Regions from separate parts of the Homo sapiens genome. Here region 2 is linked to region 1. Evidence: fine-mapped expression QTL. A gene starts in region 1. The other region holds a variant in brackets. All regions are shown on one strand. Distances are from middle to middle. Region 1 holds the start of ASF1A (anti-silencing function 1A histone chaperone). Region 2 has its middle 44 kb from the start of FAM184A.

Region 1 (16,033 bases):
GACGCTGGATTAGGCAATGGTTTTTGAGAAATGACATCAAAAGCACAATCCAACATAACGAAAATAGATTAAATGGGCATCATCAAAATTAAAAGCTTTTACACTGCAAAGGACACCACCAAGAAAATTAAAAGATAATCCAAACAACTAGAGAAACTTCTTGCAAATCATGTGTTTGACAAAAGACCTGTATGTAGAACACATAAGGAACTCTTACAACTCAATGATAAAAAGACAGATGACCCAATTTTCAAAATAGGCAAAGAGCTGGCATGGTGGCATGCTCCTGTAGTTCCATCTACTCAGGAGGTTGAGGTGGGAAGATCACTTGAGCCCAGGAGTTCAAGTCCAGCCAGGGCAACAGAGTGAGACTCCGTCTGTATTTTTTAAAAAAGGGGTGAAGGGAGTGGTTAAGGATCTGAATGGACAGTTCTCCACAGAAGATATACATAGGGCCAATAAGCATATGAAAGATGCTTAACATCTTTAGCCATCAGGGAAATATAGACCAAAACCACAATGAGATACTATGTCACACACCACCATGGCTATAATCAAAAAGACAGAACAGCAAGTGTTGGTGGGAATGTGGAGAAATTAGAATGCTGGTGGGAATGTAAAATGGTACACCTGCTTTAAAAAACAGTCTGGTGGCCGGGCATGGTGGCTCATGCCTGTAATCCCAGCACTTTGGGAGGCAGAGGTGGGCGGATCACAAGGTCAGTAGATCGAGACCATCCTGGCTAACACCGTAAAACCCCGTCTCTACTAAAAATACAAAAAAATTAGCCGGGTGTGGTGGCGGGCGCCTGTAGTCCCAGCTACTCGGGAGGCTAAGGCAGGAGAATGGTGTGAACCTGGGAGGCAGAGCTTGCAGTGAGCCGAGATCACGCCACTGCACTCCAGCCTGGGTGACAGAGTGAGACTCGTCTCAAAACAAACAGACAAACAAACAGAAAACCAGTCTGGTAGCTCCTAAAAAGGAGTTACAATATCTTACCCAGCAATTCCACTCCTAAGCATAAACCTAGAAAAATGAAAACATTTGTCCCATCCCATGCAAAAATTTGTACACATATGTTAATAGCAGCATTTTGTGTAATAGCCAAAAAGTAGAAACCACCTAGATGTCCATCAACTGACAGATAAATAAAACGTGGTATACCTATACAATGGAAAATTATTGGGTAATAAAAAGGAATAAAGCATCAATATATAACACAACATGAAAGAAGCATCAAAAACATTATGCTTCAAAGATGCTGGTCATAAAAGACTACATATTATAAGATTCCGTTTATATGAAATGTCTAGAATAGGCAAAACTATAGAGACAAAAAGTAATTCAGTGCTTGCCTACTGCTTGGGGGATATGCTGGGGAGGGGGATGTGCTAAAGGCTACAAAGCTTCTTTTTGAGATCATGAAAATACTCTAAAATTGATTGTGATGATGGTTGCACACCTCTGAATATTCTAAAAACTATTGACTCAGATGCTTCAAATGAGTGAATTACATGTTATGTGAATTCTATCTCAACAAAGCTGTTACCTGAAAAATATTACTGTGTAATCATACCAGGGGGTACTTAGAGGTGGATTCTTTGCATGCCGGATTCAAAGCCTTATCAGGCACAAATTCTACCAACCAAATTTCTACCAATTAATTACCTATTAGCTCATTTGTGAAGCATTTCCCCTCCCTATCCTTTCTGGTTTTTGACTCTTTCTAAATGACCATGCATATGAGGCCTCCAATCTCACAAAGCCTACATGCCTAGCTTCTGCCAAGCGTCACTCCATCTAATGTCATTTGTCTCTATAGTAACCAACTAGAAAAGCTGCTATGCTTAGTAATGGCTTTGTACGAGCAGTGGTCTAGCCTAGAGATGTTTTAAAGATTTGAGTCCTCTCTACCGATTACTGTTTTTTTTCCTGGTATTAAAAAGTGAACCTCTGATGAATGAGAGCAGTAGAGGGTTAGAGAGAAAAGGATGGAATATATTATAAAACATGAAGGAAGATGGACTGCAAGTAGAGACTTGAGTTCAAGAGGAAACGAGTTTAGAAAGACCTTGATTGATAAGAGGACTAAGAAGACACAGACAAAAAACTAGGTATAAGAAACAGAAAATAATTATTAGGCATTTCCCTTCAAAATGGTCAAAAACAACATAATGATATACACACCAAGAAACTGTCAATAAATGTAATTACAGTGCTTCAGAAAGCTGACTGATGTAACCTATGGCTATGCAAAAGGTGTTTTACAGTATAGTCCAGCTATGGATAAGGGATCAGATATAGCTTATACCTTCAACAAACTTCTAACACAATGATGGGTAGAAAAGAACACAAAACAGTGAAACTTTTATTAATGACGTGGAGCAGAGAAGGGGAGAGGGTACGCTATGTAACAGACATGGAAACCTTATAAAAAGTATAAGGATGCATTCCAGGATGTGTAGCTCCATCCCCCACACCTTCCAAGGGATGCCTTTTTCAACAGGAGGCTTGACATCTGTAGTACCCCGTGGGGAGCCTCCCCCAGCTTTGCCTTGGCTGGGTCTCCTTCTCTCTCCCAGTATACACCTGGACCAACCTCATTAATGGAGCTTTGTTCCTCAAGAGTTCATTAATCAAGTCATTACTGGAGTGTCCGCCAGCCTGTGGGTTCTTCCAGAAAATGATACCAATCTATTTTTTCTACATACAAAGCCCACTTTAAAATTTACTTGACATGGTAGAGAGTACAAAGGTACTAGGACAGCCATCAGAGGAATGGGTTTCTGAGCAGCAGCATCCTCATTTGTTATATGGGATGATATCTTACCCTCCTGCCATTCCTGTTTGTGAGGCTCAAAAACAGGTATTTTAAAGTTTTTTACAAATTGTCAAGAAAACATTTTTTCTTTTGCCTATTTTAACATAACTGGTTACAGGTGCATCTAACACTTTCTATTTCGCATCATACTTATTTGATTAGTTACCTTTCCTACTGAACCATAAGGTCTTTGTATGTCTTATCTTTGACTATTTCTCACAGAGCCTAGCATAAAAATTTCACATAACAAATGCTCTCTGTATGTATGTAATGAATTATTATTGAAATCATTATTGTACAATTTACTCCATTTAGAAATGTCTATGAACTCCATCAAATCTCTAGTCTATATTTATACAGAAAATTTTATTTAAAACTATCATTAAATTTTGACATCCTATTTCTAATAAATAAAAAGGAGCCTCTTAAACTAACTAAAGACCATATTAAAACAAGCCTTACATGAGGAATTTTTTTAAGTTGGTAATAATACAAATGAGAAGACAATTCAACACAGTGATTACCCGAGGTGGAAATCTAGATTTGAACAAAAGCTAGAGGTTAGTACTTCCATTCCTATGATAACTTTTGCAGTAGACACGGGCTGACACTCAATTTAATTCCTAGTTCTAATGTATTTTAATTTGGCACATTTTGATTTAATTCAATTTTAGTATATTTGAATTCGCTCTTTCATCTTGTTTTGTGTATGACCTCAATTTGACTTCAAGTTTCACTTCTCTGTAGAGGAGTCTTGAATCCATGCAAGTAAGCTGCATCTTGTGTCTTCAGAATTCAAGCTATATGCCCAGTGGTATATACTTCCTCTGAAGAATGGCAACAGCACACCACTCCACATACGCCACACCCTTACTGGCATGGCTAAAGGACCACATCATTTCACCCACAGGAAGTGCTTGGGAACTGACCAATATTTGGATTCAGTAAGATTAGATGCTCAAATAAGCTTAATTCTGAGGGGAAAAATATCTTATAGCTATATTAGGTTGTTAGAGCTGCCATAACAAAATATCACTCACTGGGTGGCTTAAACAATAGAAATTTACTTTCTCACAGTTCTGGAAGCTAGAAATCCAAGATCAAGGTGTTGGCAGGTTTGGTTTATTCTAAAGCCTCTTTGCTTGGCTTGCAAATGGCCACCTTTTTGCTGTGTTTCCTCTGTGTGCGTGTGACCCTTGTGCTTCTCTGTAAATCTAAATTTCCCCTTGTGAGGACGCCAGCTAGATTAGATTAGGGCCCACCCCAATCACCTCATTTAACTTAATCTCCAAATACAGTCACATTCTGAGGTACTAGGGATTAGTGCTTCAACATACGAATTTGGGGGAGACATAATTCAGTCTAAAACAACAACTAACTAGTTTCATGTATTTCTGCCCTAAGCACTAGTTTAGGCTTTGTTCTGTTCATCTTAGAGCCGATAAAATCTCTCTCAGCCATCCTTCCCCCAAGTAACCCATAGTGAGAAGTGATTGGGGGATTACATTCCATGCAGCCCTCCAAACATTATGTGGGACCCCCTTGGGTACTTAATAAAGACATTCACAGTGACCCATCTGTTGTACAATTAGATGTTTGGGAGTCACCAAAGTTGTTCAGCAACAAGTCCTACTGATTGCCTCTGAAACCAGAGAGAGGCTTTCACAATTCTTTTTTTCCTACAGCATACCAGTTAAATTAGAAATATGCCAGGACATATCTGAGGAATCCTTTCGGTCTCTCCTGGAGTAAGGTAGTATCAATGGTGAGGAAACTATTGAACAAAGTGCTCAACGACCCTTTAGTATTTCTGACAAGCAATAATACAAGAGTTAAGACAGGAGAAGCCTGGAGCTAATTCTTGCAGCTTCCAGTGAAATGTTGGGGAGTTTTTTCTTCTTAAATACTGTTGCATATGATGTGTTAAACAAAAAATTTTAAAGAAAATAAGCCAAATTAGTGGCATTCAGGTAGATCTTCTCAGTCCTTCATGCTGCACATCCACCAAAAGTGAGTTTTACAACTAGTCTCATTGTAACACTTACGGTCAGACTGCAAAATGCACGTGATTTTAACAAGCATAAAATGTCGTTTTCATGAGACTGACTAGACTCTCCTCTTAAGAGTACCTGTAATAATCAGACAACTGCATACACCAGTCTCACAGGAGTTTTAATCTTCAAATGGTCATTTTATCTTACATATACAGAGTGTCTTACAGCATACAGCAATTTCCACTTTATCTGCTAGTGTTAGGACCAGCACTAATAAGAATGAAGAGTATGTTGTTTATCAGCCACAAAAATCTGTGTCTATCACCATGGTTTGACTCTTAATACTCTAATGTCACAAACAACTGGCTTGAAGAAGTGTTTTTTGGTAGGTCCTATATCTAACTGTTCAATCCACTGACAAAAAAAGGGAACTCTTCCCCACTCTAACCGGTTTTCCTAAATGTACGAGGGGTTGACATTAGCTGTCTCACATTAACTTTCAAAAGACCATCAGATGAAAACGTTTCATCAAAAGCCACCTACTTAAGTATGAACAATGACCAAAGAATGACAAATCAAAATTCTGGGCACTATACTAAGAGAAAACTCTTCCAGAACACATACTTAAGAATTAATTTTCTCTCTGAATTTGGCCAAGTTTGGTGGTTTCATTCACAACATTTAAGGAAAAAAATGATGGTTTATGGCTAGCAGATAATAAAACAAACCTTTATACCACTTACTAAATAGAAACGGTTTAGGCTCACAAATATGTTAAAGCTTTCTCTTTCCCCGCAATGGTAGCCAAGCAGCATAAACGAATCAACATTTCCTCAGTTCAGACCTCAACTGGTTACAGGCAAGCAAGGGCTCCTCAGAATTTGCTTTACTAACGGTTTAGGTCAGAAATTTTTTTGAAGATCAAATGTCTTGCTATGTCTTTGTGTTCTTTTTCCCATCTCTATTACGTTTGTTGCCCTGTTGGTCTCCTAACACTTCCATTTTCTCCTTTTATGTTCCTGCTATGCTCTCCAAATGGCAGTAACCTGAAGTATAACTGATCACACCTCTTGTGATTTTTTTTTATTCTAGGACTTCCCAGATCTGGACTCCGAAGAAGACGCCCAGGTGCAAGCCCAAAGGTTACCTATTTAAATTTTCCAAGCACAGTGTGTAGAAAATCATTCCTCGCCCTTCATTTTGTGTTGCTTAACGGCGCTGTCGTGCCTAAACGTAGATACTGGCCAAGAGCTAGATTTCCAAAATGGCTTTGCTCCTTTCGAGCTGACATCGGTCTATAACATGCAATTTATTTCCCCTGCAGCCAATCTTTCTCTCTACTCCAAATACTACCCGATACGCAGAAAGCTGAACCTAACCCAGTGTAAACACCGACTCTCATCTGCTAAATTCAGCAAGGCCGGCAAAGCTGTTGCACTGATGTAAAAAGAGCGTTAAATCAAAAAACCAAAAAAACAAAAAAAAAAACAAAAAAACGCCAAAACACCCACACGAAGCCAACTGGAGGGGCGGGCGTCGGCCGGATCGCGCCCTCCCGCCGCAGCCACGCCTCCCCGCCGCGGCCACGCCCCCTCCGCCCCTCTCCGCGCCGCCGCCGGCGGCCTCCGCGCGGGCCTCCCAGCCCTTATTCCACTCACTTTGTTCTCCGCCTTTGTCCTAATCCACACCAGCAGGTGGAGCCGCAGTTAAAGTTTCCGAGTCCATTCCGGGAGCGGGAGCCCATCTTGCTGGCTGCCGAGGCCCTCGCTGGAGGAGGAGGGTCAGAACTCGGGTGCAGCCAATCGAGGGCAACGCTGCTACTTATCAGAGCAGAATGGGCTGTAGTTTAGTGAAATAGGAAAGCTGCAAAACACTGTGGAGTGCTCCCGTGTAAATAAAAAGAGGAAAAAAGTTTCTCAAGTCGCCGCTGCACGACGTCTGGCCGGCGCTGGAGCGGGGGTCTGCGCTCTCCCGAGCGGCCGCGCGCTGGACTTTATTGTGCCGCAACCAGCCCCAGTTCCCATTGTTTGTGTTTTTTTCAAAATATGGCAAAGGTTCAGGTGAACAATGTAGTGGTGCTGGATAACCCTTCTCCTTTCTACAACCCGTTCCAGTTCGAGATCACCTTCGAGTGCATCGAGGACCTGTCTGAAGGTGAGTGCGGCGCCCGTGCGCCCGGGCTGTCAGTTGCGGGCTGCAGACGTTGAAAGTTTCCCGGGCCGGGCCTCGCGCTGGGCGGCTGTGTTCGGCGCCTGGCGGCCGCGGGCTGCTCTGCGGAGGGAAACTTGAAGTTGATGGACGACGGCCGCCGAGGCGCGCGCGGCTTTCCGCCGCAGCCCAGGCGCCTGCCGGGCTCAACTTGCGAGGAACTTGTTTGAGCGGAGGAGCGGAGGTAGCCATGTTGTCAGCTTTGTCTGCGGGCGGGCAGCTCGGAGACCCGCACTCGCTCCCGCTGCGCCGCCTGAGGTCGCGCCGGGCTGGCTCCGCGCCGCCAACAGCCTCCGCGACCCTCCGGGCCCGAGCACGGAGGCTGGGAAGGGAGAGGCTGTGCGTGTGGTCGCGCCGGCGAGTTCGGAGCGGAGCCATCTTACCCCGAGTCGAGAATTGGGCCAGCGACCCCGGCGCACGGCGCCTCCTCTTGCCCCGCCGCCCGCCTGCCCCCGGCGAAAGGCAGGCAGGCACTCTCGAGAGCTCACGGTGGAGTCGCCGCACTCTCCGGGCTGGCCATGCCTGGCCGCTTCGGGGAGGAGAGCGAGGCTGTCCTCGCGCTGATTTCTGGCTTCCTCGACCAACCAGCGGGGGAGGCGGGCGCAGGCTCGGCCCCTCCGCGCCGCGGGCTGGGCGCCGGCGCTCCCCGGGGGCCGTGGGTCCTGTTCGGCCGGTCCTCCTCGGCCGGCGCCCGGGATGCGCCGGGATGCTGGCGCGCAGGCTCCCCAACCAACGTGGACTCCTTTCCCCTAATGACGAAAAGCTAATTTCAGGAAGAGAAATAGAGCTGAGGTAGGAAGTTACATTTAACCTAAAAGCAGAAATAAGATACTTAAATAATTTCCAGGACTTAATCTCTGCCTTATAAATAGTCTGAAGGAAGACTTTCTTCAAGACCGTGTTGAAATCTAAAATAACTCCACATCCAAATACAGAACACACCCTAAACATAAAACACAAACGTAGGCTAGGAAATTAAGGTCAACTCCTCATGTCAGTCCAAGAATTCTTGGTATTTTTTCTACATATATTTTAAGGTCTTAAAAATACGTATTTTTAATATCTTTAGTAATAAATATTTAGAAAGCTAAAACGACAATTATCTTTGCTTTAATTATCTTTTACTAAAGTAATTCAGTGCTTCATTTGCCAGTTTTGAAGGGGAAATAGTTTAACTTCATCGATGAGGGACATACTTTGAACTAGAAGTATATGTAAAAAATGCATTGAAGATGATTTAGGTAATCGTGGCATGTAAAACTTTTCATTTTAAAAACTAGTTTTTAATCTCTAAAATGTATATATCATATGTAAGGTTAATTTTAATTATAAAACAATATATATTCATTGTAATAAACTTTTAGAAAGTTGTACAGGCATATATAAAGTTAACAGTTCTCTGTACTCAGTGCCTTGCCCTATCTCCTTTCGGTAATCACAATTATTACTTTAACATGTGCCCCCGTTTTTTTTTTTTTTTTAAACCTATATAGAGCATAAATGCACATACATATATAGGGCAAATTTTGAAAGATGATTCATTTATTAAAATAATTTCAAATAGGCCATTGATAACACTAAGGGGTATTTTTCTTATTACTCTGAAGTCATTTGATTACTCTCCTATGATACTACTATTAATATAAGCATTGCAGCTACCAGGCCCATTTTTCACACCCAACAGTAATTTTTTTTTTATTGCCAACTGCATATAAAAATAGACAAAAGAAAAACCATTGATCGGTCCATTCCAACTTATACCACACTGTTTTTCAGATATACCACCAGAAGTTCTTCAAATTACAGGTATTTCTCAAGTGTTGCCTTCCATTTTAGGAGTCAGCTCTGAACAAAGAAGATAGATGACTCAGGATGTCGTTACAGGGCTTTTACATTGCATAGATGAAACCAGCCATTCATAAAGCCAAAACGTTCCATTTTTAACTGGGATCCATTCAGAACCCAGCTGAATCACATCAGGGATTTACAGTACTGGTGTCAAAAACATACTTATTTCCAATGGTATATTTCACTTCCTAGGCACCATTACTGAGCATTTATTTAGTATTTTAAAAAATATTTTAAGCTGAGTCATACTGAAGCTGCAAAGGAATCTTTCAAAAAGGTGCCATGCCTGTATACTCCACCTAGAGGCTATGTGGATTAAGGAAATTTTTACTTAGCAAAGGCTTCTAATAGGTTCCATACTTTTATATTACAGTTCTTTTAAAAATTCTGTTCTTAAAATTAAACTATAGAATTTTTTTTTTTTTAAATGAGACAGTGTTGCTCTGGCACTCAGGCTGGATGGAGTACAGTGGTGCAAACACAGCTGCTCCCTGCAGCCTCAACCTGGGCTTAAGCAATCCTCCCACCTTAGCCTCCTGAATAGCTGGGACCATAGTCGATGTGCCACCACATTGGGCTAATTTTTTAATTTTTTGTAGAGACGGAGTTTTGCCATGTTGCCCAAGCTGGTCTCGAACCCCTGGGCTCAAGCAGTCCTCCCACCCCTGCCTCCCATAGTGTTGTGATTATAGTGAGCCCACTGCACCCAGCCCAAACTATAGAATATTTTGAAAAGAATTTTCTTAATAAGTTATTTTGCCTCAAGTCTCAAAGCAGAGTTTGGCCACCGTTTTTCATACTTTCATCAGTAGCCCCAAACGTTCACTTTCCTTTAAGAGCTGCCCTGTAGCTTTGCTTCAGAAAAAGCCTTGAGGAATATTTGGTCTTAAGATAATTTGGTTCTTTCTAATATAGGGCTTATATCAAGGGTTAAGACAGCCTGAGACCCTGGCTGGATGTGCTTGATGGTCACCAAGACTGTACAAGTTTTGATTGACCATCCTGCCATTCTTAAATTTATATATATATATATCTTAATTACAGCTACTGTCAATTGAATACTTATAATATACCAGAATTGAGCATGGTGCTTCATACTTTCCAACTTCAGCTTGTTCTAATTCCAAAGCCTACATACTTTCCACTAGACCACAGGTCTTCCCAAGTAGTGTAATTAGCTAAAAATTCTCTTGATGACTTCCCTCATTCACTCACTCTTTCACCACAAATGTAAATACTTTCAGGCTGGGTAAATCATTTAATCATGATTACTGTGATTAAATAAAAGTTAACTTTAAAATAAATGAACAAATTTCTTCACCTGAGAACTTATGTAAAACATCTGACCTTACCCTTCCTCCCTCAAATACAGGGGGCAGAGGAATTAAATGAAAGCTGGGTTAAAAAAAAAAACAACAAAAAAACTGATGCCAATGTATAAAAGGGTATTGAGCATGTAAAACTCAGCAACTGTAGCAAGCATCCCATAAACATAAAAATCAATGTACAAGTGTTCCCTGAGTTGCAGCCTGTTCTTGTTAAGGCTAGATTCTCTCTCCATCTCCTCTGCTCTCACTTCCCCTGCAAATAAATTCCCTTATTCCACTGCTAATTTCAGAGCTAGAAAGAATTTATCTTCCCAGTTAGGTTTTCAGAAGAAGCCCGGGGTTTGTAGTTACAGAGGCATAGCTTGGATTCTGATTCTTTGATGTACAAATTATGAATTTGTGTAGATTACTTAACCTCTCAGAGTCTCAAGTTATTTGCATAATGGGGATAATTTGATCTACATGATGAAGCTGTTGAGGTTTAAACAATAGGTATGAAGTAGAACTAATGCCCAGTATATAGTAGGTATTTTCTAAAATAGGTTTATAAATTATGGCTATGTTCCTATGCCAGTCCACAAATGCGAATTTATACCACTTAGGATCAAGGGCATTATATGTAGTGATACAATTATATATGAAATTAAAATTCATGAAAACCTTTATGTAATAATTTTTTTTTTTTTTTTTTGGAGACAATCTCGTTCCATTGCCCAGGCTGGAGTGCAGTGGCGCGATCTCGGCTCACTGCAACCTCCGCCTCCAGGGTTCAGGCGATTCTTGTGCCTCAGCCTCCCGAGTAGCTGGGACCACAGGCATGTGCCACCCCTAATTTTTGTACTTTTAGTAGAGATGGGGTTTCACCATGTTTGCCAGGCTGGTCTCGAACTCCTGACCTCAAGCCATCCAGCCACCTTAGCCTCCCACAATGCTGGGATTACAGGCGTGAGCCACTGCGCCCAGCCACTCTATGTGATAATTCTTAGTCTTATCCTCACTTGGCTAGTTTAGTACCTTTCACATCACTTTCTTAAAACAGTTTCTTCACTTGGCTTTTGGGTCACCTACCTCATTTGCCACTTGTTTTGTAACTTAATTTGTCCTCTTATCTTTGGAGGGCTCAAATCTCACTCCCTAGAGCAAGCCCATGTATTTTTATGGCTTTACATATCATTGACAGGTTCCAAATTTTTATCCTGCCTATTCAGTATCTCTGCTTAGAAGCAGACATCTCAAATATGTCTAAAATGAACTCCTGATTGCTCCCCTACCCCACATCACCTCCCTGCAAAAGTGGCTCCTGCTGCTTTCATCTTCAGGATTTTATCCAGAATATAACTGTTGCACAGCCCCATGGCCACACGAGGTCCATGCCACCATAATTTCTTGCCTCAATTATTGAAATATTGTTTCTTCCCTTGTCCTCTTACACTCTATATTGAACACAGCAATCAAAGCATTCCTTTTAAAATGAAAGTTGGCTCCTGTTACTGCTCTGCTCAAAACCCTTCGATGGCTTCCCATGCCACGCAGTGTGAAAGCCAGAGTCCTTATGATGGCCTTCAAAACCGCATGATCTGGCTGTTCCCCTCATCCTCAATCATAGGGTTTGGTGCTTTCCTCCTTCCTTTCATTCTGCTCCAGCCCTAGCCTCCTTGCTTTTTCTTGCCAAGTGTGCCCTACCCCTGGGCCTTTGTATTTGCTGTTCCCTCTGGCGAGATACTTATATTGCCTACTTCCTCTCTATCTCCATCAACAGATGATCTCAGGAGATGTCAGATGCAGCACCCTGCATCTGGAAGTGTGCTGGAAGCTGGAAATAGAAATGGTTTAGTTCTAGGACAGAGCCATGACATAATAGGTCCTCAGAAAATGATTGCTGACTTAATAAGAGAAAATAAAAAAGGAGCTTTCAGTTGATTGTAGTTTACAATACAATATAAATAAGCAGTACGTTACTATTTCTATTATCAATTTAGGGAACAAAAATATCTACAGTTACACAAAAATGGCCACACATGGTGGCACTAACTAGATTGTCATGAGTGACCCAGAAACTCACCCTTTGGGAGTGCTTGTGTAACAGTGTGTTGAATGCAAGAGGCAGGCCACACAGTGCAAAATACCCAAAGAAGATGAAGAGGTCTCTCAGAGATGGTTTGTATTACAAAGTTATCTTCTTCCTCAGCTAAACAGGAGACTCCTCCAAAGAGTTCTACTCATCTCTGGGTTCACTTCACAGAACACATTGTAAAACATGCTCAGTAAAATCCGCTATATTGAATTACATATAACGCCTTGAATTGCACCTGAATGTCTTTTCCTCCTGCCTATCTCCACTGTGTATACTCTATTGTATCACGTGGTGTAAAGATCTTGGTTTCCTCTGCCCAATTTAAAGAATGTATGACACAGGGGGGTGCCGTAAGGGAAAAACCCTACCATTGTTCGTTGACAGTTGATGAGCTGAAGCCACTTACTTCTGAGCCATGAGGGAGGTTTTACTAATAATTTTTCTACTTTGGAGCTCTGTGATTATTTGGATCTCTGCAGCGTAGTATAGGGCTGCCCTTCCAAAGTGTGTTGAGAAGGGCCTTAAAAGATGATATACAAAAAAAGGGGGATTCCATAGCCAAATAAATTTGGGAAGTGCTGGATTAATGTTACTGGTGTTCTTTACTGAAGGATATCTCAGAAAACTTACTGTGCCAGCATGCTTTATGAATCCTCAAGACAAGGTTTACAGCATTTCCCAAGTGTTTGGCTATGTTATCTTGTTTGTGAGGCACTGTCCAGGAACTAGTGTTTCACAAAAGAGTATTTTGAGAAACTCTGATCAAAGTGTGAACTCTGGTAGGAACTTTATAAGGAGCATTTCACTGCCTTTCTGGATTGCTATGAGAAGCCAATTTTAAAGCCAGTAAGTGGCTAAGTGGACATTAAAAGGGTCTTTGATGTCATCTGGTAATGTAATTACTGAATATGAAATAATGCTTTGGTTTTTTAACCCTAGACTTGGAATGGAAAATTATCTATGTGGGCTCTGCAGAAAGTGAAGAATACGATCAAGTTTTAGACTCTGTTTTAGTGGGTCCTGTTCCCGCAGGAAGGCATATGTTTGTATTTCAGGTAAGATTAATCTTGGTAAATGTGTATGCCAAATATGTTTCGAAGTAGACTATATTATCTATTATCTTATAACCCTTATCCCTTTCCTTTTGGGTTAAAGAACTGCTTCTGCTGCATTCACTTTAAATCTGTTTCCATCATGTTTTAGGCAGTCTCTGTGTCACAGAGGAACTCTTACTTCCTGGTTTTATATGCTGAGAGATGTTAATGTGACGTTTACTTTAGAGAGATGAACAACCTACAGTAAATTTTATACTGTATCATGGCACACAGGGTGGTGAATTTGGGGCTCTTCCTGTGAATAGCACCTCAGTATCAGACTTCCAAGGTGGCTGTCTAGCAACCCAAAACATGGATTCAAAATATCTAAAACTAACTGGCATTGTTAGTAATATGCATCTTCAGTTTATGGTTTCAGCCACTGGAACTGATGGTGATGTAACAAAAACAACTTTATTTCAGCATAATCAGTAGTTGAGCTAGGTTAACAGATACGTTTAGTGGATAGAGATGTGTGGTCTTGGGTCATTGGAATGACATTCCAGAGTTTACTAAAGCATCTTATAATCTACATTATCTTATAAGAGGACTACTTTTGCAAATTTACTACCCCACTAGGTATTTGTGAAGAGAATTTCTAGTAATAAAAATTTTGTTCTTAGATACCACTGAGAGTATTTGGATCTATACCAAGGCTTCAGACATTGTCTTCTATATTCAAAAGTGTTATTTCTTTTAATCCATGTTAAATTGCTATATGGAACCATTCAGTTATTCCTCAATTATGCATGCTTATTTATAAGGGAGATGTTTGTAATAGACCAAAGAGTAACTAGCCATAGGTTTTTTAAAACTACTATTAATTTCTGTTACAAGTATTTCAACCCAGCAATGTCCCATCAGTTAAGTGGAACTCACTGAAAAGACTTAATCCAGAAAGAAAATCTAACTCTTCCTATGCCTGACCTCTGTTTTCTCACTTCACAGATGGGACCAATTTAAATGAATACCATTGGTCAAATAATCCCATCAGAAACTGGCAAAGAATCACTTAGACACATGCCATCTCTAGAGCTGCTACCTTTCCCTCCCCTGTCCTAAATACAGAATTTAGAATCTTGGTTTCCTAGCCTTAGTACTTTTGATTAAAAAGCAACAAATAATTTACTGTATCTAAAGAAATAGCTAAGAAAAGCTCAAATATACTAATCAAATATATGAATTAAAAGTGCTGTTAATCAAAGTTGTGTGAGTGCATAACCATGTAAAAGACATGGGTAACAGAATGCCCTGTTCTGTAGAAGGAAGCACTGCAGTTATAGATATAGGTCAAATCCCGACACCTCTGTATTAGCCATGTGTGGCTTTACCTCTCTAACCTCCTCCCTTAGTCATTCCAGTCTTCTATAAAATGTGGATAATATTCTATCTCATTAAAATGTTATGGGGAATAAAACAGTATAATCAGTCACTCATAAAGAGTGCCCTATTCCTAAAATTAGAACTACATTTTTATTCTCTTAACTTCTTGAAATTGTTATATAAAAAAGCAGGACTTGCTCTGACCCACAGGCCTAAGGAACCCATACTTTACTGATAATTCATGATACAGTAAAAGAAACCTGGGTTGACAGGTACTGATAATACTTTTTTTTTTTTTTTTTTGGCTACTATAAGAACTTACAAATAAATGCCTTGTTATTGAAACAAACCCTTGAAAATCTTTTGTGTTTGTTATTAAGCATACTCCTAAGCTTTTGGCTGAAAGTGCTGTAGCAAAAAAAATGTATTCAAAAGTATTTCCTGCTGGTGATCTTCACGTAGTTTTACCTTGGTGTCAGTGTACATGTTGCCAAAAAGAACAGAGGAGGTACAATGTATATTCAGCCTAAAGGTTTTACAGAATTCACCATTATCAACAGAAAGAGACTAAATTACAGCTTTTGTTTTGTATTTTAAAACTACTATAGTAATCTCTTGGTCTGCCATGATTTTGCCTCTCTAAATAGTTAAACATGTCTTTCTTCTGAGTGAGTCAAAGGCTAGCAGGAAGATGTCCAGACATCTGCCTAGTATTGCCAGCTAGAGTCAAAACAAAGATCTCTGCTCATTACTTCTGCATCCTAAATTATTTGAAAGGCCTGTAAGCTTCTCTACTTAAATTTGCTCAAACTGAATCTTTTTCAAATTGTAAAATGCTTTTTAAAAGATGTTTTATATTTACAACAGATTTTAAAACAGAAACATGCCTAGAACCAATTTACTGAAGGGAACCAATTTACTGAAGGGAAGGGGAAGAGTTCTCATAGCAGTACTGAACTATTATATATTTCCCATCTCCACCCACTTCAGGTATATTAGAATCCGTTTGGGTACACTGAAAGTAATCTAACCCCTCTGTGCAGGGGTGTGTAGAATCTCTAAGACAAACAGCATATTCTCCAGGACAAGGCTGGCTGTCCCCTATCCTGGTGTCTTGCCAAGAGATCATAAACCCCTTCAGGGCAGGAACTGATTTACAAATGAATTCCAAAATACTAAGTGCTCAGAGCTGAGCCACACGAGATTATAAAGATGAACTGGATGGGACTCCTGCCCTGGATAAAGCATAGCATCTAGAAGAGAAGACTGAAAAATAAACATGTTTAGATCACAGGGCATACGTTCTTAGATAATTTGTGACAAGAAATATCAGCACATAAAA
Region 2 (16,033 bases), 230 kb after region 1:
CTGTATAAAGGAATGGACTTTCCTGCCCTCTGATGTCACCACTTCATAGATTCTTCTCTCTTGTCAATGCTCCTCCAGATATTGCCCCATTTATCTGTTATTTATTTTTTATTTTATCTCATTTATTTATTTTGAGACAGGATCTCACTTTGTCGCCCAGGCTGCAGTGCAGTGGCATGATAACTACTCACTGCAACCGCCACCTCCTGGGCTTAAGTGATCCTCCTGCCTCAGCCTCTAGAGTAGCTGGGACTGCAGGTATATGCCACCATGCCTGGCTAATTGTTGTATTTTATGTAGATATGGGGTTTCACCATGTTGGCCAGGCTGGTCTTGAATGCCTGGGATCAAGCATTGGCCTCCCAAAATGCTAGGATGGCCTTGGCCTCCCAAAATGCTAGGATGACATGAGTGAGCTACTGTGCCTAGCGTTTATTTTGTATATTGAGACAAGGTCTCACTCTGTCTCCCAGGCTGGAGTGCAGTGGCACAATCATAGCTCACTGCAGCCTCAACCTCTTGGACTCAAGCAATCCTCCCACTGCAGCCTTCCGAGTAGCTGGGAGCATTTTTTCAGGTGCTTATTGATCATTTGTATATATTCTTTGGAGAAATATCTATTCAAATCCTTTGCCAATTTTTCAATTTTTAGATAAATATTCACTTAATGTTCCAAATGATTTATAAATTTGTCTTCTTCCAAAATATTTCTGATGGTCTTCATTTTTCCATCAACCATATTTAAACTGGTCACAAAGAAACTGTTTATTCCACAGCTCAAATAAAATTGAATTTTCATATTCCAACAATATTTAAATATAGTTCATTCAATAACCATTTATTAATTATTTTATTTTAGGCACAGAGGAAAGGGAAATAAATAAGATACGGCTCATATGCCTAATAATTCTGTTCTGATCACCCTGCAGAAGTAGGATAGACCCCCATCCGGAACTTGATTCAGATGTCAAGACTGATGATGTGACTGGGCGAGGTGGCTCATGCCCGTAAACCTGGCACTTTGGGAGGCCAAGGCAGGAGGATAGCTTGAGACCAGGAGCTCGAGACCACCATGGGCAAAATAGTGAGATCCTGTCTCTAATTAAAAAATAAAAAATAATTTTAAAAGACTGATGATGCCACACATACATCAAGAAGTTATGAAAGGTTTGTTACTTACATAATGAGGCTTTCTGAGTACAGCAGGTCAAGTTTCCCAAGCTGGTTCAAATGGCTTAAGAGAGCAGGGTATATGGCAGGGTGTGGTGGCTCATGCCTGTAGTCTCAGTACTTTGGGAGGCTGAGGCAGGTGGATCACCTGAGGTCAGGAGTTTGAGACCAGCCTGACCAACATGGTGAAACCCCATCTCTACTAAAAATACAAAAAAAAAAAATAGCCTGGTATGGTGGCACACGCTTGTAGTCCCAGCTACTCGGGAGGCTGAGGCAGGAGAATCACTTGAACCCAGGAGGTGGAGGTTGCAGTGAGCTGAGATGGCGCCACTGCACTCCAGCCTGGGTGACAGAGAAAGACTCCGTCTCAAACACACACACACACACACACACACACACACACACACATACACACACACAACGAGAGAGAGAGAGAGCAGGGACTAGAGACTGTCTTGGGGCTTTATGGTGGTTAGGAGATGGGGCCACAGTGAGGGTTTCCCTGTTGAGGGTTTGAATTTCCTATCAGCTCCAAAGGAGAGAGAGCATGGCTTTTTGTAATGGCTTGCTCAGAGGTGGGGGCAGAAGGGGAAAAGGGACTGGTGGGCTTGAAAACTTCCAGTAGTCCATTATCCTAAGTGATCTAACACAAAGGCAAAAAACCAGATACCGCATGTCCTCATTTATAAGTGGGAGCTAAACACTAAGTACACATGATCATAAAGATGGGAACAATAGCCACTGGGGATCACTAGATGAGGGAGGGAGGGGGGCATGGGCTAAAGGACCCCATGTTGGGTACTATGCCTATGACCTGAACGACAGGATCGTTGGGACCTCAAGCCTCAGTGTCACACAGTTTACCCATATAACAAATCTGCATGTGTACCCTTAATCTACAATAAGTTGAAACCTGTTTTTAAAAAAGAAAACTTTCAGTAGTCAGACATAAAAAATAGACTCAGGCTCTTTATTACAAATCCCAGTCTAGTGGAGGAGAAAAGCAGGTGAATCAATAAAAACATTACAAGGCGATAAATGTCCACAGTGCTGTGCAAGTCCAGAGAAATGAGTGTCCAGCTGCCTGTGGAAGACTTCATAAAACTGGCATTGACTGGATCTCAAAGGGAAGAAGACTCTCTCAAAGCAGAGAAGGATTAAGGAGGACAGGAGGAATTTTCAGGCTTAGGGAACAGTATTTGGAAAATCACAGATATATGAAAGTGCATAGTGTATTCTGAAAACAATCCACAGTCCCTTTGTAAAGAGTAAGGGGCATCTGGAGAGGAAGCAGAGGCCAGAAGAGGACCCTGGGGAGGAAGTGTGTGTATGTGAGATGAGCTCTGTATGGCATTCTAAATGTTTTGACTTTATCCTTTGGAAAACAGGAAAGCCTCCCAGACAGGATAGTATCTGCATTTTAGAAATATTATTCAGGTCTCAGGAGAATTGGTGAGTGACCAAGTAGAACTACCAGGTGCGACCAGCAGGGGACACGATTGCAATCATCGAGTTTGGAGGCTAGGAGGACATTAACCAAGGCTAGGGGATTGGGAGTGGGCATAGATTTGGGAGACAAGTCTGTGGATCATTTTGTGTGTAAGGGTGAGAGAGAGTGAGAAACAAACTCTTGGGATTTTAACTTGGACTACTGGGAATCAGGAATGATCAACAGATTTCTGATTTTGGTGACCATGTACATAGTGGTGCCCTTAACTAGGCTAGGAAACAGGGAAGAGGGAAGAAGAAATAGTGAGATCCATGTAGAGAATGTTCAATTAGCAATGCCCTGGCAGGGCTTCCTGGCTAGTCCTTTTCGTACTTAAAGTTGTCAGTAGGCCATACTGCCACACAATACATTTGAGTACAGCAATGTATAATCGGACCCTAACCCAGGCGGCCTCTTCCACTGTGGTCACCTTGAGAGGCTATATCAGTTCTGTTGCTGCTGTCAGAGGCCCCATTGCTTTGAACATGCCTGCGACTCAGAGGTAAGACCTGCTTCTTACGTACCTTCACGGTTTATGAAGTACTTTATCTTAGGTGAACCTCAAAACAACCCTGTGAAGTATACAGTAGGATTATCATTTTTTACAGATAACAAAACAGACTCAAAGAGGTTGCTTCTCTAGTTCACATGGTTAGAAATGGAGGACTTGAACCCTCCTTTTTAGTGATTAATTTAATTGGTTGAGGATTTGTAGGACCTGAAAGTTTAGCTAGGTGTGTGGAGTCTGCCTTTTAGTGCAAGTTTAGCCAGCCAAGGGTTGAGAGAAACAGGCAGGGGTGGGGGTATCCCAGAAGCAGGACCAGTCAGGGACTCAGTTACAGGAGAGAAGCAGTCAGGGACCAGAGAGCTGGAGGCAGGGTCTAAATTCTGGATCACCCAGAGGGTCAAGAAGAGATGAAGTGACACCAAAGATCACTCAGATTTTAAGGCAGAAACTTTGCTTTCTGGATTGCTGTATATGGCCTTTGGGGCATGGGAAGCTCTGACCTGCAGTTATTAATTAAGCCAGGACCTTTCCATAGATGCAGAAGTTTGGTCTTCCACAATCAAGGATAATTCTTATTTTTTATAATAATGAAAAACTGGAGTGAATGTAAAACAGTACACTGGCTCCACCATTCACTAGCTATAAAATTAATTTAACATTCATTTCTTCCTATGTAAAATGTGAGCATAAAAATCACTGATCTCCTAAAGTTGTTGTCAGTATTAAATAAGACAATATATATAAAGGGCTTAGAATAATACTTAGCTCATATTAAACACTCAATAATAGTTACCTTTATTATTGTGGGAAATGATCTCAACAGAGTTTATAAAGCTATTATGTTTCTCATGAGTTGTTGCGGGAAGTCAGGGACCCCAAACAGAGGGACTGGCTGAAGCCATGGTGGAAGAACATGAATTGTGAAGATTTCATTGACATTTATTAGATCCCCAAATTAATATTTTTATAATTTCTTACGCCTGTCTTTACTGCAATCTCTGAACATAAATTGTGAAGATTTCATGGACACTTATCACTTCCCCAATCAATACCCTTGTGATTTCCTATGCCTATCTTTACTTTAATCTCCTAATCCCATCATTTTCGTAAGCTGAGGAGGATGTATGTCATCTCAGGACCCTGTGATGATTGCGTTAACAGCACAAATTGTTTGTAGAGCATATGTGTCTGAACAATATGAAATCTGGGCACCTTGAAAAAAAAACAAGATAACAGCAGTGTTCAGGGAACAAGAGAGGTAACCTTAAACTGACCGCCAGTGAGCTGGGCAGAACAGAGCCATATTTCTCTTCTTTCAAAAGCAAATGGGAGAAATATCGCTGAATTCTTTTTCTCAGCAAGGAACATCCCTGAGAAAGAGAATGCATCCCTAAGGGTAGGCCTCTGAAACGGCCCCCTTGGGTGCGGCTGTCTTCTATGGTCGAAACTGTAGGGATGAAATAAGCCCCAGTCTCCCATAGCGCCCCCAGGCTTATTAGGATGAGGAAATTCCCGCCTAATAAATTTTGGTCAGACTGGTTGTCTGCTGTCAAACCCTGTCTCCCGATAAGATGTTATCAATGACAATGCGTGCCAAAACTTCATTAGCAATTTTAATTTCGCCCCGGTCCTGTGGTCCTGCGATCTCGCCCTGCCTCCATTTGCCTTGTGATAGTGTATTACCTTGTGAAGCACGTGATCTCTGTGACCCACACCCTATTCGTACGCTCCCTCCTCTTTTGAAAATCACTAATAAAAACTTGCTGGTTTTACAGCTCAGGGGGCATCACAGAAACTACCGACATGTGAAGTCTCCCCCGGACACCCAGCTTTAAAATTTCTCTCTTTTGTACTCTGTCCCTTTATTTCTCAAACCGGCCAGTGCTTAGGGAAAATAGAAAAGAACCCATGTGAAATCGGGGGCAGGTTCCCCTGATAATGAGTTTGTAATAAGATGGCATACTTTAAAAATTGTTAGTATATGAACACAAAATAACCACAACTATAAAATTAAGAAAAAAAGAGACTGGAAAAAACTTCTCCAACATGTCATCAGTTTTTGCCTTTTTAAAAAAAGTAATAGCTATATTGAGGCTAGGTGTCGTGGCTCATGCCTGTAAACCCAGCACTTTGGGAGACAGAGGCAGGAGGATTACTTGAGTCCAGGAGTTCAAGACTGGCCTGAGCAAGATGGTGAGATTCTGTCTCTACAAAATACAAAAAAATAAAAAAATAAAAAATAAAAATTCGTAGGGCATGGTGGTTTATGCCTGTAGTCCCAGGAGGCTGAGTTGAGAGGATTGCTTGAGCCCAGGAGGTCGAGGCTGCAGTGAGCCATGATTGTGCCGCTGCAGCACAGCATGGGTGACACAGCAAGACCCTGCCCCAAATGATAATAATAATAGTCTTATTGAGACATAATTCACGTACCCTAAAATTCACTCTTCTAAAGTATACAGTTCACAGTCAGTTGTTTTTAGCATATTCACAGAATTGTGCAAGCATCACCAGCATCTAATTTTAGAAGGTTGCATCACTGCAAAAAGAAACCCTGCACCCATTTGCTGTTACTCATAATCCGCTTGTTCTTCCCAGCCCCTGGCAACCACTAATCTACTTTCTCTACGGATTTGCCTGTGGTGGACATTTGATAGAAGTGACATCATACAATATATGGTATTCTGTATCTTTCAGGAAACATAATGTTTTCAAGGTTTATCCATGTTTTAGTACGTATCTATATTCATTCCTCTTTATGGCCAGATAATACTCCATTGTATAGACACACTACATATTGTATAGACACTGTCCTTCAGTTGATGGACCTTTGAGTTTTTTCTACTTTGGGGCTATTATGCTGCCATCAGTATTAGTGTTCAAATGTGTGGACAAATGTTTTCGGTTCTCTTGAGTATATACACAGAGGTGGAGTTGCTGTGTCATATGGTAACTCTATGTTTCACATTTTAAGGAACTCCCAACTGTTTTCTAAAGTGGCTGTACTATTTTACAATCCCGCTAACAACGTATGAGGGTTCAAATTTCTCCATATCCTCATCAACACTTACTATGGTCTGTCTTATTAAATACAGCCATCCTAATGGGTGTGAAATAGGATCTAGTGGCAGAGCTGTTTCTATTTGAGTGGAGAAATGTATTACTTTTTTTTTTCACTCAATTTTATGGACTAAAATAAAGTGATGGTTTTTCTCTTTCTTTCTTTCTTTCTTCCTTTCTTTCTTTCTTTCTTTCTTTTTTTTTTTTTTTAGGAGACAGGGTCTTGTTCTGTTGCCCAGGCTGGAGTGCAGTGGCATGCTCATCCTGCCTCAAACTCCTGTGTAGCTAGGACTGTATGCAGGTACCACTGCATCTGAAAAACTTTCTTTTTTTTTTTGTAGAGATGAAGTCTTGATATGATGCCCAGACTGCTGTTGAACTCCTGGCCTCCAGTAATCCTCCCACATTGGCCACTCAAAGTACTGGGATTATAGGTGTGAGCCACCACACCTAGCCCTGTATTATATTTTTAATAGGAAAGTTTTTCATTTGTTTTGAGACAGGGTCTCACTCTGTCACTCAGGCTGGAGTGCAGTGGCAAGATCATGGCTCACTTTAGCCTCAACCTCCTGGGCTCAAGAGATCCTCCCACCTCAGCCTTCCAAGTAGCTGGGCCTACAGGTGCATGTCATCATACCTGGCTAATTTTTGTATTTTTTGTAGAATAAAGATAGGGTTTTGCCATGTTGCCCAGGCTGGTCTCAAACTCTTGAGCTCAAGCAGTCAGCCCACCTGGGCCTCCCAAATTGTTGGGATTATAGGCGTGAGCCACCGTGCCTGGCCTTTTAAAATTCTTTTTTAAGGAAAATTAAATCCATAAGCAGTATGAGAGTTTTAGTTTGAGTGCCATTTCCGTTAATTTTAAATAGTCCCTGAAATTGCATAATCCAGAAATTAACAAAACTTAATGATGTCAGCAAATTTGAAGTGGCATCTTTTCTTATTTATAAATATTTTAGCAGCACTGACATTCTAATGAGGACATCTAAGATATTTGCTGTCAGTTGAGTGATTATTTGGTATTTAAGTGTAAATTAACCCATCAGCTATATCACTTATATCCGGCTTCATGCTAAATAGTTTAGGAGGCTAAGTGGTTTGAGAATAAGGCAAAGTGATTTCTTAAAAAGGCATGAAGATCTGAACTGTCAGTTAAAAAGAACAGTATTGAACGCTGCTTTACCAAGATAAGTGACACAGTGCTTAACATAATTTGGCCCTATTTATTATCCTTTCTATGTAGACTCTTGGTAACTTTTTATTTTATTTATTTACTTGTTTGTTTCTTTACTTATTTATTTTTATAGAGATGCAGTTGTTGGCCAGGGTGGTCTCAAACTCCTGGCCTCAAGCAGTCCTCCCACCTCGGCCTCCCAAAGTGCTGGGATTACAGGCAGGAGCCACCATGACCAGCTTGGAACTTTTTAGTGCAACTCTTTTCTATCAGAGTGAATTAATTAATCCATCTCTTTGGAGTGCTACTGCTCTTTCTCTGTGGGGATATAGATCTTTCTAGAAGCACTACAGAGACAGCCCTCTCCATTCTGGACCTCCAGCCTTAGTGGTCAGGGAGAAGCGGAAAAAGGCCTCTGAAGGGAATGTCTTGCATTAATAGGGTTTCTAGAGGAATTCAGATATTGTTGGTCTAACAAGAGCAAGCTCCTTTTTTATGCCTCTGCTGTGTTAACTTAAAAAAAATACAATTTATCAATTTAGAAGAGTAGAAGAGGAGACTTTATTTTTTACAAAGGGTTGTAGCCAGCAAGGTGGCCTTTCTGACAGTCTGGGAAGCATAGTCTGTGGCCAGAAGCCAGAAACAGATACTTCAGAGGAGGGCAAAAGGAACAGGAATGTATGCCAAGTAGAGAGGTCAAACATACATATTCAATAAGCTGTAAAAGGAGTCATGAATATTTATGAAAGGAGAAACGTGCACATGCACAACTGAGCTTCCTGCTTCTTCTCCATGTTCAAAAAATGGCATTGGGAGGGGCGCGGTGGCTCCTGCCTGTAATCCCAGCACTTTGGAAGGCTGAAGGGGGTGGATTGCTTGAGTTCAGGAGTTCAACACCGACCTGGGCAACATGGCAAAACCCTGGCTCTACAAAAAATACAAAAATTAGCTGGGCATGGTAGCATGCATCTACTCGGGTCCCAGCTACTCGGGAGGCTGAGGTGGGAGGACTGCTTGAACCTGGGAGGTGGAGGTTGCAGTAAGCCGAGATCATGCCACTGTACTCCAGCCTGAGCAACGGAGGAAGACCCTGTCTGAAAAAAAAAAAAAAAAAAAAAAAAAAAAAAAAAAAAAAAAAAGGCAGTGATCTGAGGGTGGAGTTTTCAGTCCTCTAATGTCACAAAGTGAAGCAGAGGACATGAAAACCCTTACTGTGCATTCTCCATGGACTGGCCAGAACCACTCCATGGTCTGTGGTCTCAGGCAAAACAGTAGGGGCAGGCGGGGGGATGGTTCACACCGGTAATCCCAGCACTTTGGGAAGTGGAGGTGGGCAGATCACTTGAGGTCAGAAATTTTGAGACCAGCCTGGCCAACATGGTGAAACCCCATCTCTACTAAAAATATAAAAATTAGCCGGGCCTGGTGGTGTAGGCCTGTAATCCTATCTACTAGGGAGCCTGAGGCAGGAGAATCACTTGAAACTGGGAGGTGGAGGTTGCAGTGAGCCGAGATCATGCCACTGCACTCTACCTTGGGCGACAGAGTGAGACTCCATCTCAAAAATACCAAAAAACAAACAAACAAACAAAAACAAAAACAGTAGGGGCAGTGTTGGGTGGTTGGTTCACGTCAGGGGTAACATGATTTTAAACATGATTTAAATGTTTAAATCAAGCCAATAATGATTATAACTATTCCATTGGCTTTAACTTTTGAAAGTGTTGAGTTCTGTTAGGCCCTTAGGGAAGAAAGCCCAATCATGGTTGGCAAGGAAGGGAGTCTGACCCCGGCTCCCATCAGGGCCGAGAACTCTGTTTTCAACGTTACTCAGGGGTCCCCTTGGCAAAGAGATGATCCATTCAGTCCGTTGGAGGCTTGGAGTTTTATTTTTAGTTTACCATTGTTTATGTTGACAAGTTGATTGCTGTTTATGCTATTTGCAGTATGTATAGGTGTTTGGGTCACAGAATCTTAAGAAATAAATATGGACAGTTATATACTGTAGAGAAATATATTCAGAAACATTTGTTTCCTCTCTACTCTATTTTAAATTTGAAGTTAGCCATTTGCTGATTGTGCCATTACATTACAGTTGTAAAATGCAAGTTTAGATACATCTTCAGACACAAACATTTACAAAGCACACTCCAAGATACAACTTTGCACACTCCCAAAACATAGTGACTATTGCTATTTATGGAACTCTATGTTGCTGGTTATAATATCCACTTTGAAATTTCTCATTTTATTCTTTTTTTAAATTTAAAATATTCTCAGTTATTCATAGTCTTAGCCAATCAGTATTTATGCAGTTAAAGATGACAGCTAAAGAAATATTTTAGTTCAAAGGATTTTTATCTTTTGTTTCATTTGGTTTAATTATCTGGCCTCAAACAACTTAAATTCTGGCAGCATTGCTCTTACTCTAGTTCTTAGCCTTGAAAACTTCTTATATATGTCAACTATGTAAATAGCTTTACAGTATCAACATTCTTCTTGTAAGTTCAACAACTTTTATTGACTGGCAATGTTTTATGTAAATTGTAGAGTTATGTTGAAACTTATAAGGCATCTCTTAAATGTTTAAATCAAGGCAATAATGATTATAACTATCCCATTGGCTTTAACTTTCTGCCAGTAATTGTAATTATAATTTTAAAAATCTACATTTATTTATAAAATTTTACCTGGGGGTGTAAAAGCCTTCTCATACTCTATTAAAAAGACCATTATATGCTGTTAAAATGAGTCATGCTGAAATCATTGCTTACAAAGGGTTCATCTAAATGATAATGGGTATAATAAGGAAGTTACAACCTGGTAGTAGAGGTCTTTTTTTCCATCTGGCAAATCTAATAAAACGTGAAAAGACATTAAGTCATGAACAAACACCCAATTAGAAGATCAAATAAACTATGGCCCTAATTTTTTTTTTTTATATCTTTAAAGTACTTTTGGTAACAATTATTAATCTGTATATTCCAAGTAGATACAACCTCAGAAACTTTATAATACAACATTTGTTTTTAGCTTTCATGAGGTTATGTAGCTGATGAGAGAGATAAACATTTTGCCACAGGAAAATGCATATGTGCTTACTTGATTTTACATAAAAATCCCAGGGATCCACAGTTCCCTAGAACTCCTGTTATTATATTGTATTATGTATTGTAATTAAGCTAATTTTTACTAACGCTTTGAAAGTGCCTTGAAAGGTGTTATTTACAAATCATTCTTTATAAACATTGTTGTAGCTTGATATTCAGGCATTTTAATTCATATCCAGGCAGTTGTATCTATTAATAGTTTTTTAGAATAAGCTTTCAGAAAATTTGTATGTAAGTCTGGTCTATGACTTCAAACAGCTTTATTAATCAATCAACATATGTATGGTTAATAATTACTGTCTGGATCTCTTTCAGCAAGTCCAATAACAAAATATTATTTCCTTCTTTTTTCTTTTTGAGATGGAGTCTTGCTCTGTCACCCAGGCTGGAGTGCAATGGCGTGGCTTGGCTCACTGCAACCTCCGCCTCCCAGGTTTAAGTGATTCTCCTGCCTCAGCCTCCCGAGTAGCTGGGACTATAGGTCGGGACTATGCCTGGCTAATTTTTGTATTTTTAGTAGAGATGAGGTTTCACTGTGTTGTCCAGGCTGGTCTCGAACTCCTGACCTCGTGATCTAGCCGCCTTGGCTTCCCAATGTGCTAGGTGTTATTTCCTTATTTTAAAGCTCATTTCTTTACATTCATTGAAGAGTTGGTTATAAACCTAGACGGACACACCAATTTGCATACCATTGTTGGATAGCATGAGTTTTCTGGCATATACATATCTAAACTTTGCAGCCACAACTGGCAGACTACTTTTACATTCCCAGAAGAGTTGATCTAATTATACAGTGGACCAATAGGTCAACTTTCTGTGAGGAGTTTCCAGAGTCTTGCTCATCGTATGTGCCCAGAGAAGTTGTTGGAAGCAACTAGCAAGCCAGCAAGTGGAGGACTTCCTGGTAGCACTCCAGCCACTCAGAGTTGTAAAATTTCCCTGAATATGATCTGTTGTAGTTTCAGTGTAGAGGGTCTATTCATTTTCTATTACTGCATAACTAATTACCATAAATTTAATGGCTTAAAACAACAGCTTATTAGCTCACAGTTCTACAGGTTAGAAGTCCAGACATGACACAGCTAGGTTCCTTGTTCAGGGTCTCACAGGAATAAAATTAAGGTGTCAGCGAGGGCTGTGATTCTAATCTGAGGCTTGGGGTCATCCAAAGTTATTCAGGTTGTTGGCAGGATCTTGTTCCCTGTGGTTGTAGGACTGTGATTGCCACCTTCTTGCTCACAGAGTTGCTCTCAGCTTCTGTGGGCTGCCCACTGTTCCCTACCATGTGGCACCTTCATCATAAAAAGTCAGCAATGGAGAATCTCCTTTGCATGAAATCTCCCTCATGCTTCGAATTTCTCTTTCCAGGAAGAGCCCAGTCACTTTAAGGACTCATCTGATTAGGTCAGGCCCACCAAAGATGTTCTCCCTGAAACAGGAAATTTTCCCTGACCCCTTTGCAGCAGGTGGGAACTGGACTGTGGGCACTGGAGCTAGCTAGCTGCTTTGGCTGGCTTCACTTGCTTGGATCCACTGCACTCCAGCCCTAGTGGGACGGGGAGTGTAGCTGAGTGGGTGCAAGAGCCAGGGCGAGTGCTTCCGGGCACCGGCAAGAGCAAAACTCTGTGCAGGCCCCATGGCAACATCTAGAGGGGGAGTACCTGTGACTCCTGAAGCCCCAGAAGGAGTGTTAACAGTCAGTGCTCTTTTAGTTTTGCTGTCCACGGACAGCTTATGTGTTTAAAGGCTCAGTGAAGCCTCTGCCTTTTTGTGCGGGCAGAGGGTCAGTGTGTTAGCCTTCTGTACCCCGAGCTCTTGTCTGGCATCCAGGAAAAATCAGGTCTCACAAATGAATTTAAGGATAGTAAATGTGGGGGATTTTATTGCCAATGGAAGTGGCTCTCAGCAGGAAGGGGAGCTGGAAAAGGGATGGAGTGGAAAAATATTCTTCCCCTGAAGTCTGGCTGTCTCTGGCCGGACTCTGAAGTCCCATCATCAAGCCATCCCTCTGAAGTCAAGCTGCTTCTCCCCGATGTCCAGCTGTTTCTTCT[C/T]CTCTCAATGTTCAGCTGTTTCCTTTTCTCTGCCAGCTGGGTCAGGGGTTTTTATGAGTGCAGGATGGTGGGTGGGACAGGCCATGGGTGGTTTTGGAAAAAGGCAACATTCAAGTGGGAAAACAGGAATGCATGTTCTCACTTTGGGCTGTGGTTCCAGGCTCGAGGGTGGGGCCCTTGCCGGGAACCCCACCCTTTTATGCCTAGAATTTCTCTGCCTCCTGTCCCTATCACCCTTATCTTAAGGTCAACTGATTTGGGCCTCAAATTTCACCTGCAAATCCCTTCACAGTAGCACCTAGGTTAGTGTTTGATTGAAAAACTGGGAAAAGGTGTGTGCACACTAGTGGTGGTGAGGTATCTTGGAGGACACCTTAGAATTCTACCTACCACAGTGGAAGGGCAGGGCCTAGGATCTGACAGGGGAAAAGAGTAGCTAGGACTGTTTTCTACTCTTTAGAAAAAATATCTAAACACATGCAAATTGTGAGAGGACATATCCTGGGTAACTGTCAATGCTGGTAAACCTCATAGAAAGAGACTTTGCCCAAGACTTGGGAAACATGCCCCTGCCACTATCTAATTATGTGATCCCGGTCAAATGATTTAACTTCTCTGGGTTTGGAGCTGAGAGAACCGAATGGATCAGGAATTCCCTACCAGGTAGGAAAGCAGGAGGGAAGCAGCTACCCTAAAGTCAGCTGGGGAGCTTTTTCAAAGCAAGCATTTCTCCTTCCTTCCCAAGATGTCATAACAGTTGGGAGTGGGGAGAGAAAGGTTGAGAAGGGAGGCATGAGTATGTGCAGTGTGGAATTGTTCTTCAGGTCATTCCATCATTCATGCATTCATTCATTCATTCATTCATTCAACAAACATTCATTGACCGTCTACTTTGTGTCAAACACTGTGTTAAGCACTGATAATGTTAGAGTTGTAAATCAAAAATAAAATTCTAAGCCCCTCAACCAACTAAATGGACCCCCTGCTTGGCCCAGGAGATCCCAAAGAAACCTGAAACACTAGTTCAGGCCATGACTGGAAGGTGGAGGTAGAGTAGCCAGACATGCCTCCTTATAACCTCCTCCCTTTGGAGTTTAGGCACAACTGACTACCATTAACATTAAAACAGAGATCTTAAGACTGACAAACAGACTCTTTGTAGCAGTAAGGTATGCAAACCCAGGTTTGGCTGCTAACCCCTGGAAAACCAGACATGAGAGACAAGAATTGGTGGGAAGAAAAGCAGGCTTCTTTGGAAAGCCCGCAAAACCAAGAAGATGGTGGACTAGTCACAAAGACCATCTTAAATTTTAAAATTTTATCATAGGGTTTTTAAAGGGAAACTTGGTATGGGAGATGTGAGGGACTAGTGCAGGATGAAGGGTCTGTATGTTTGTTCTGATGGTTATCTTGGGTAATTGCCTATCTGGAAGTATGTTTGGCATTATTTTGTCTTGGGCCAGATGGTGGTGGACTAATTGTTTGAGACTCCTTCTAAGCAGGATGATTAAGCAGGGGCTCTGTGCCTGGTTTGTTTCAAGATTATCTTCTGAAATTTCTTAAGCAAGAACATAATTAGATAAACATGAGTTACTGGAGAGGAGTGTCTAGAGAGGGAGGGAATAAAAGGGTGAGTGGGGAGGGAAGGAAGAAAAAGAAAATGTGTGATTAAAAATATTTTTAAAACTGAGGCCCCCAGTTACAATAAAATACCAAATTCTAACCTGACTCTGGTATAGCATCGCATGGCAGATAGCAGGCCTGGAAGGAAATCAAGGTATTTTACCCCCAAATATATTTCTTTGACATATTTTGAAATGGTCCTGCAAAGCTGTCTCCTGTGGATGGGGGAGGGGCCCTGGAATTTGCATTCTGTAGAGAATCCCCTTCCCTTACTAGTTTTTTTTTTTCCGGAGAGCCTGACACCTTTTAAGGTCCAATAAAAAACACTGTCTATTCTCTCTGAAGCCTGCTACCTGGAGGCTTCATTTATAAGAACCTTAGCTTCACAATCTCCCTTAACTCAAGCATTTCTTTGTGCTGACTTTAAACTCTTCAGGCAAAACTCAACTCTTTCAACCAATTGCCAATCAGGAAGTCTTTGAATCTACCTATAACCTGGAAGCCCCTCTCTCCCAGATGTCGCACCTTTCCAGGTCGAACCAATGTGTACCTTACATGTATTGATTTATGTCTTTGCCTGCAACTTCTGTCCCCCTAAAATGTAAGAAAACCAAGCTGTAACCCAACCACTTTGAGCACATGTTCTCAGGACCTCCTGAGGATCTGTGGCTGGGCAGAGACACCTAAATGTGATCTGCAGAGGATTGCATAGAGAAAGCTCTGCCTGTGGCTGACATACTGAGAACTAACCTGGGCGCCTTACAGCAAAACCATCCATGAAGCAGATGTGGTGGGGCTTTCCTGATCTTTTAGGGCCCAGATGCATTTCACTGAGATGCATGTTGCCTTTTTCTGAAAGCGTCTCATAATTAGTCTTTACATGTGTTTCAATCTGGTTTCACACTCGTTAACTGCTTAAATTGTAGAAAGCGCATTTTATTTCAGTCCACTAGGGGGAACCAGAGGGATTAGGCATTGGAGCTAACAAGCCTTTAACATTCTTAATACTGTAATTAGAGAAATTTCTAGGGGTTCTCAAAGTGAGCTGACTTTGAGAGAGCTGAATAGGGGGGTGTTTTTTGGTTTCATTTTTGTGTTTTGTGTGTGTGTGTGGGGGGTTGTTATTGTTGTTTTCTTTTTAACTTATTTGCATAAAAGACTATTTTTTAGAGCAATTTTAGGTTCACAGCAACATTGAACAGAAGGGGAGTTTAGAAATATGTAGATTTCCAGCCCTTGCCCCCAATCCACAAAATCAGAAGCTTTGGGGATGTGGCCCAGAAATCTCTATTGTAAAGGTTGGTGGAATATCTGCCTTTGGCAAAAATCTACTTAATTATATAAACTTTAAGCCCACCAGGGGCAGGGACACACTGCAAGTTCCTAGCATCCACAGCAAGATGTACAAACAGAGGCTCGCAAGGTTTTAAACATTTTTTTTTAAAGATAGAGGTGAAATACTTGGAGATTGTCAATATTTGGAGTATGAGTCATATATTTTTCCATGTCAATATTTGGAATATGAGTCATATATTTTTCCAGTTGAACAACTTCAACTGTTAAGCAGAATCCACATAATTTACTTAGAGCCCAAGGAAAATCTGAAAACCACCATTTGAGGAAGACTTCCGGCTCCAGAAATGAAATTTTAGGGAGCCCCCAAATCAGAAAACAGTATATTGTTTCTGAAATAAGCATTTAATGAAAGACTGACAGATTCCTGTAGATCTTATCCAGACTCAGGGAATAGAAATAAATGCCCTAGATTCAATTGCCATTAGACACAGATGTTTCCATAGTATCAAATACATTCTGGCACACTGGCCAACAGACACAAGTTGGAGTTAC

The links.
Region 2: its variant is fine-mapped to the expression of ASF1A in whole blood (INTERVAL, PIP 0.92).

The regions. Positions count from the first base shown.
Region 1 is chr6:118,887,553-118,903,585 of GRCh38, forward strand. ASF1A (anti-silencing function 1A histone chaperone) reads left to right here and starts at 6,600. Exons shown (of 4, transcript NM_014034.3): 1 at 6,600-6,970; 2 at 13,214-13,329. The coding sequence starts at 6,862. All of the region lies in intron 8 of MCM9 (minichromosome maintenance 9 homologous recombination repair factor), which reads right to left. RefSeq lists silencers at 6,335-6,474, 7,265-7,794 and an enhancer at 6,795-6,884.
Region 2 is chr6:119,114,427-119,130,459 of GRCh38, forward strand. It overlaps a transcript of FAM184A not described here. Among named protein-coding and RNA genes, the nearest start is that of FAM184A, 44 kb to the left of the region's middle. The variant C/T (reference allele first, on the strand shown) is at 12,563.